Linked DNA regions of Homo sapiens. The protein of the gene in region 2 interacts with the protein of the main gene of each other region in a pairwise test. Each region holds a gene or a part of one and is shown on either strand. Other genes may lie near its edges.

What was found.
Region 1: the proteins of ZNF490 (region 2) and FSD2 interact in binary tests that used the Homo sapiens proteins (3 or more experiments, as listed by UniProt).

The regions. Positions count from the first base shown.
Region 1 is NC_000015.10:82,804,491-82,808,241, forward strand, and holds the start of FSD2 (fibronectin type III and SPRY domain-containing protein 2), read right to left. Parts: upstream 1,580-3,751; 5' UTR 1,476-1,579; intron 1-1,475.
Region 2 is NC_000019.10:12,609,247-12,612,997, forward strand, and holds the start of ZNF490 (zinc finger protein 490), read right to left. Parts: upstream 1,568-3,751; 5' UTR 1,435-1,567; coding exon 1,318-1,434; intron 1-1,317. Other genes in the region: ZNF791 (zinc finger protein 791), read left to right, coding at 1,834-1,836. UniProt on the Homo sapiens protein: May be involved in transcriptional regulation.

The DNA of each region.
Region 1 (3,751 bases), on a different chromosome or scaffold from region 2:
AATCCAAGCTTTTCACCTGACACACAACCAGTCAGGTGAAGAGCTTGGATTCAAACCCAGGTTTCCATTAAATCACACCATCTACAGACAGAGGAGCAGTTCACTAAAATAATGCTTACATTCCCATGTGCTACCCAAAGGGAAATAGCCAGGATTCTGTATGACCAATAAATCATCATGAGAAATTATTTCAACCAGAAGCTGGAATGTGAAACACCAAGTTGAACTGTCAGAAGACTGGAAAACACTTAGTGCAAATACAGATAAGAACACATGCTTTCAAGCTGGCACTTGCCCTTCGAACACACAACACAAAGTGGTCTCAACACAAACTGGCTCAGTGTCAAAGTAGGAATTTTGCAACACACCCTACAGTTAACAGTCACTTTTCCCCTCAACACCTAGACTCTTTCTTAACAAAATCAGGATTTGGGGAGAAAGGAAAGTTGACAATAAACTGTCATTTTATAAATGGTGAAACTAAAGCTTAGAGAAGTAAAGCAATTAGTCATAGTCCATTATGAATGTCTTTGCTGGATACCCTTTCCTCTATGCCAAGGGAAGCAGTTAAAAAAAATAAAAAAGATGTTTGTCTAAGGCTTATATGGGAGGTGTATCCCTGTGCATTACTTAGAAAAGTCCCCCAATAATTTTTTTTTTTTTTTTTTTTTAGAGACAGGTTCTTGCTATGTTGCCCAGACTGGTCTTGAACTCCTGGGCTCATGCAATCTGCCACCTCACTTGGCTTGTTTATTAACCTTTTATGGATCATGGGCATATCTACTGAATCTACTGAAACCTGTGAATTCTCTTCCCAGAAGTGATTCCATAAGGGCAGGAACATAACTTTGCCTATAATTTTAGCTCTTCCATGCAGCCCTTGGCAATTCCTGAGCCACAGCAGTGAAAGAAAGCTTGCCTTAAAGTGTTACAGTGATATGAAATGATTCAAATCAGCTTTGCAGACACTGCCCGAACCTGAAAACTTTCTATAGGAGGAGGCTGTATGCATAACAAGTGAAAAATAATTACGATGCTGTTTTTTAGTATTTGAATCAATGCATGAAGTTATTATTTTTCAGCATGTACACACAGATTAAATAAAATGTATTTACAACACAATAGTATAGCCAGATGATATTCAACATCTATATTTCCAAACTGTTCTACCAAATGGTTCTAACTAATGGGTCCCAGCACTACAGATATCCTAAAGACACATTATAAGAATCACCAGCCCCTGTCTGCCTTCATCAGAGCCTCTCACATCCTGTCCCAACATCATGTTCAGTTAATGCGAATTCTTGCTTTAAGAAGGCACAGAAAACATTTACACTATTTATTGTAATTTAAACATCTGCAATTTACCATGATATCTCTTCCCACCTACAGGAAAGATATTGCATTAATATTGCAGCATTGAGTTTCTAATAATACAATTTGCATTGGAAGAATATGACTACCCCAAAACTTGCCTGCTAAGCGTCCATAAATGCTTCCTTTAACTCAGAGGACCTGGAGTTCTGCTAGAAAATTGAATCTGTGTTCAGCAGGCTTTCCTTCCTAGTGACCTCTGCATGCCCCACAGGCTACCCCTGCCTATTTTACACCAGAGTTCTGCAAGTGGGGCACCAAAGCTGGATGGTAACATGAGCTGGCTGCAGCCACAAATAGCAACAGGCCTGCCATGAGTGAAGGTCCAAATATAGACCTGCTGTGGCTGAGTTGCCACTTCTTACTACTCAAGTGTCACCAGGAGAGGTCACATGCCGTGCTCTGAGTTACTTTCTGTGCTGTGAGGGGTTTTAGACTTGTGGCTCTACCATGGGTCTCAGATGGCTGGTCATGTGGAGAGGGCTGGGGACTGTCACGGCAAGACCAGGAAGAAGATTCCTTTTTTTTTTTTTTAAGTGAATGAGTTTCTAAAATTATATGCAAAATTATGTCTGTGTCCTTATAGAATCACTTCCGGGAAGAGAACTCACAGGTTTCAATAGATTCTCAGAGGTGCTCATGAACCATACAAGGTTAAAAAACATTTTGGGGGCACTTTTCTAATCAAAGCACAGGACACACTTCCCATATAAGCCTTAAGCAAACATTATTATTTTTTTTTTTTACTTGCCATGGTATGGCATAGAAATGGGACTATCCAGCCAATACATTCCTTATGGACTATGATTGACTATTTCTCTAAGCTTTAGTTTAATAATTTATAAAATGACAATTTAGTGTTAATGTTCTTTTCTTCCAAAATTCTGACTCTGTTAAGAAGTTGAAAGAGTCTAGGTGTTGAGGAAAAAAGTGAGTGTTAACTGTGGGTGTGTTGCAAAATTCCTACTTTGATGCTGAGCCCACAGACCAGCATAACAGTATAATCTCTCTCTCCTCTCTCTCTCTCACATGCACGCACGCACACACACACACACACACACACAGTGTAATAGTCAGAGTTGTCCAGAGAAACAGAACCAATAGAATGTATACATATATGGAAACAGATTTATCATAAGGAATTGACTCATGTAATTATGAAGACCAAAAAGTCCCAAGATCTGCAGTTAGTAAGCGGAAGATCCAGGAGAGCCAATGGTGTGGTTCTAGTCCAAAGGCCAGCAGGCTCAAGACCCTGGAGAGCCAATGTTTCCATTTGAGTTGGAAGGCAGGAAAAAAACCCATATTCCCACTTGAAGGCAGTTAGGCAGGAAGAATTCCCTCTTATTCAAGCTTTTGTTCTATTCAGACCTTCAATCGATTGGATGAGGCCCACTCACATGAGGGAGGGCAACCAGTTTTACTCAGTCTACTAACTCAAAGGTTAATCTCATCCAGAAACACCATCACACACACACACCCAGAATAATGTCTGACTAAACACCTGGTGACCCAATCAAGTTGACACATTAAAATTAACCATCATACATATATATACATATGCTATAGACAGTTTATATTCCCCTAAAATTCCCATGTTGAAACCAAATCCCCAATGTGATGGTATTTGGAAATGTGGCCTTTGGGAGGTGATTAGGTCATGAAGGCAAGCCCTCATGAATAAAATTAGTGCCATTACATTGGGGGTCCCAGAGAGCTCTTCCATGTGAAGATGCAGTAAGAATACAGGTATCTACGAACCAAGAAGCAGCCCTTCCTTACCAGACACTGAATCTGCTGGTGCTTTAATCTTGGACTTTCCAGCCTCCAGAACCATGAGAAATAAATGTTTGTTGTTTACAAGCCACCCACTCAATGGTATTCTGTTATAGCAGCCTGAATGGACTAAGACATATATTAATATATAGAGAGAGGATAATTTTATTTTTTCTTTTCTTTTTTTTTTGAGGCAGAGTCTCACTGTTTCGCCCAGGCTGGAATGCTGTGGTGCAATCTCGGCTCACTGTAACCTCTGCCTCCTGGATTCAAGCAATTCTGATGCCTCAGCCTCCTGAGTAGTTGGGATTATAGGGCATGCACCACCACGCCCGGCTAACTTTTCTTTTTCTCTCTCTTTTTTTTTTTTTTTTTGGTATTTTTAGTAGAGACGGGGTTTGGCCATTTTGGCCAGGCTGGTCTCGAACTCCTGACTTCAACTGATCCGCCCACCTCGGCCTCCAAAAGTGCTGGGATTACAGGTGTTAGTCACTGCACCCAGCCACCCACGACAATTTTATAATTAGAAAGATTGACAGTTTCCGCTTGAAAAACCAAATAGATAAGAAAACTAACAGAAATAACACAGTATAAAGCAGAT
Region 2 (3,751 bases):
AGAACTAAACATGACCTTTGACAGCCTTGGAAGCATTGTTCCCCCTGCATCTACCTGTACACACAGAGCTACCAGAAGGGTGGATCATGGGAGTTTTCAAGATTACACTGTCTCCTCTATAATGGGAAAAATGAAATATGTTTCTACTTTAAAAAAAAAATTTAGAGACAGTCTCTCTCTCTCCCAGGCTGGAATGCAGTGGCACAATCTTGGCTCACTGTAACCTCAAACTCTTAGCCTTGAGATCCTTCTGCCTCAGCCTCCGAAGGAGCTAGGACTACAGGTGAACACCATACCCAGCTAATTTTTAAAAATTTTTTGAGAAATGGGGTCTCGCTATGTTGCCCAGGCTGGTTTTGGGCTCTTGGTCTTTCCAAGTTCTGTAGGGACACTTTAGAAAACTTATTTGAGATAAATTTCCTTCCACTTTACAGCAACACGGATGGAACTGGAGGCCATTATCCTAAGTGCGATGATGCAAAAACAGAAAGTCAAAAACTGCATCTTCTTACATATAAGTGGGAGCTAAACAATGGGTAAACATGGACATACAGAATGGAATAATAGACACTGGAGATGCCAATAGGTTGGACAGAGAGGGGGGATGAGGGATGAAATATTACCTATTGGGTACAATATACACTCTTTGGGTGATGGGTGCACTAAAAGCCAGACTTCGCCACTATGAAATATATCCACGTAACACAAGTGCATTTGTAACCATAAATCTACAAAAATAAAAATAAAAATGAAAAGCAATAAAAACATGCTTAAACTAAAAACAAACAAACAAAAAAACAACGAAAACAAACCATTTCCTTCCAGAGTAAAACGCAGTTTACTGAGCACGTCTCATAGATCGTGATTGGTCTGAAGAGTCCCTGTGCCCAGGTTAGGGTTGCAATTTACCACCCGAGCCAAGTGCTCGGGTGTCCTACGGATTGTTTTTTCTTTCTTTCCTTTTTTTTTTTTTCTTGGGATGGGTTCTGGCCATGTTGCCCAGACTGAACTCAAACTCCTGGAGTCAAGCGATCCACCCGCCTCAGCCCACCCACCCCCCGACCTCCCCCACCGCCCCCACCACGCAGTAGCTGGGACTACGGGTGTGCGCCACCAAGCCCTGCCTTGGGGTTCCTTTTCTAAAGTGCCAAATGTGTGGAGGTGGGGAAAAGAAAGGTGGACGCCTCAACGCTGTTATGGTCAAAGATTAAAATGCAACCACACTTTTTATTACACATGATGGGGTAACCGTCTGTTTATAAACAAGGGTCACTATTCCACGAGAGGCCTTACAACATTATGCCAAGCCCCTGGTACCTGGAGGACATCAGACCCTCCTGTTCCTGTGCGGCCTTGACTAGACGACCACTTGCTCTGGACTTGCTCCTCGAGGGGTCGCTCCATCTGGAAACTGAGACTGGAATTCCTGCGCATCCCTGTCCCCGCATCCAGAAACACTGCAGGAAGACTTCCGTGTCCGACCCGAGATCCGGAACAATTTCTGCTTCAACACAATTGTCCACGGAGGGCACCAGTTCCGTCCCACCGGCGGAAGCGAGATCTGCCTAGCTACTAGACCTGCTGCCTAGCTGTCATTCGGACAAAAAGGGGCGGGGCTGTATAATTGTCCAATCAGGGGCGGCGCCGGAAAGGAGGGTACGGCTACGCTGCGCAAATGCGTGCTACGTCACTGTGCGATCGGGTTGTGCTTAGCTTGGGGTCTCCTGGCCCCTTGACGCGTCAGGTTGCTGTACCCCTGCATCGGATGCGCTGTACCCTGCGCTGGCTCCGTGAACCTTAGGGACAACACCGGGACACCCGCGAGGCCGGAAAATGGTGAGTGTGCAGGGCCGGACTAGTTGGAACCGGCCGTGATCGCGGGACCCGGGCCTCCCCACGGTCACCTCCGGCCGCAGTGTGGGGCTGGGCTGGCAGCTGGAACTCCAAGCGTCCTGTCCCGTCCCTGCGCGGCGACTGCGGTCCCAGCCCCGGAGCCCTCTCTGGACAACTCCGCGCCCGCAGCCCCGCGTCTTTCCCAGATCGTGCAGGGACCACGGGAGGGTCCTGGGGAGAATCCCGCCTTGTGTGTTTGGTTTGTGTGGGAGGAGCTACAGTCTGGGGTTCCCAGTCCCTTCTTTCTTCCCAAAGGCTGTTTCCCCCTGAGTCTTCCAAAGATGTTGGAAGCAGAGTCTCAAATCCACTACCCTGTCCCCCCAGCCTAGCTCCTCCCACGGCGGGCCATTAATCCCTAGATTTCCGGATCCCTCCCCGAATTCCCAAACGCCTACTTCCGCTCGCCAGTGGAAAACATCGTCACCAACTCTTTGTCCTGTGTGGTGCATTTCAAACACACGCAGTATTTTAATAATCTTTTTTCCAATAGATGCCTCTTTTAAACGATTTATTTCTTGTTTGTGGATATTTTACATCAGAGAAAAATCAGAAAAATTATTCACTTGGAACTAATCTGCATAAAATGCTGTGGCCCTCATCCTGGTACCTTTCCAGGGCACAGACATCCTATGGGAACTCCTTTGCGTTGAGGTTCCTTTTTGTAAACTTTCCTGGGTAATCTATCTTTTCAGCACAGTTTCAGATTGGCACTGTCCCGCCTTGGGTTTATGACCTTGAAAAGATTTATTCACTCGAATGTCATTTTTCCAATAAATATAAAATATATGTTATCAGAAGAACTTGAGAGACAGTACAAAATATTTCCAAAGGGCAAAAAAGAAATGAATCTCAGAAAACAAAAAACATCCCAATATTACATTTGTTAAAAATTCTTTGTTCTTTCCCTGAGCACATGGAATATGTTTCTCAGGTCTGTTCTTTTAGTTTGATGTTTCAGATGGTATTCCAGGACTTAAACTTGCAACATCTAGAAGCATTCAGATAGAAGTAATACTTTTGTAAACTATTTATTGCCATGGAAATAATTAACTGACATTATTATTTTCTTTTTTTTTTTTTTAACAGATGGGGTCTGGCTGTGTTGCTCAGGCTGATCTTGAACTCCTGGGCTCAAGCGATCCTCCACCCTCAGCATCCCAAAGTGCTAGGATTCCAGGCATGAGCTACTATTACCGGCCCAACATTCTCATTTTCTGAAAGCAATAGTGGGTTTTCTTGTTAAATGGCTTAAAATTTTCTTGCTTCCTTCCTTTATTTATTTATTTATTTATTTATTTATTATTTATTTACTTTTTTTTTTGAGACGGAGTCTAGCTTTCTCGCCAGGCTGGAGTGCAGTGACACGATCTCAGCTCACTGCAACCTCTGCCTCTCGGGTTCAAGCGATTCTCCTGCCTCAACCTCCCAAGTAGCTGGGATTACAGGCACAAGCTACCACGCCCAGCTAATTTTTGTATTTTTTTTTTTTTTTTTTAGTAGAGAGTGTTTCACTATGTTTCCCAGGATGGTCTCAATCTCCTGATCTCCTGACCTCATGATCCTCCCGCCTTGGCCTCCCAAAATGCTGGGATTACAGGCATGAGCCACCACGCCAGGCCTTTTGCTTCCTTTATACGTAAACACTGTGTTTAAGTAATTCTGCTGGATTTTTTTTTTTTTTTTTTTTTTTAAAGACCAAGTCTTGCTCTTTTGCCCAGGCTGGAGTGCAGTGGCACAATTTTGGCTTACTGCAACCTCCGCACTTGGAAGCTGAGGAGCCACAGGCAGATGCTGTTAGGGGAAGAGGGGAGGATGTCTGAGGTTTTAATTGTGGTTTCCTTGGGTGTGTTTTTAGACA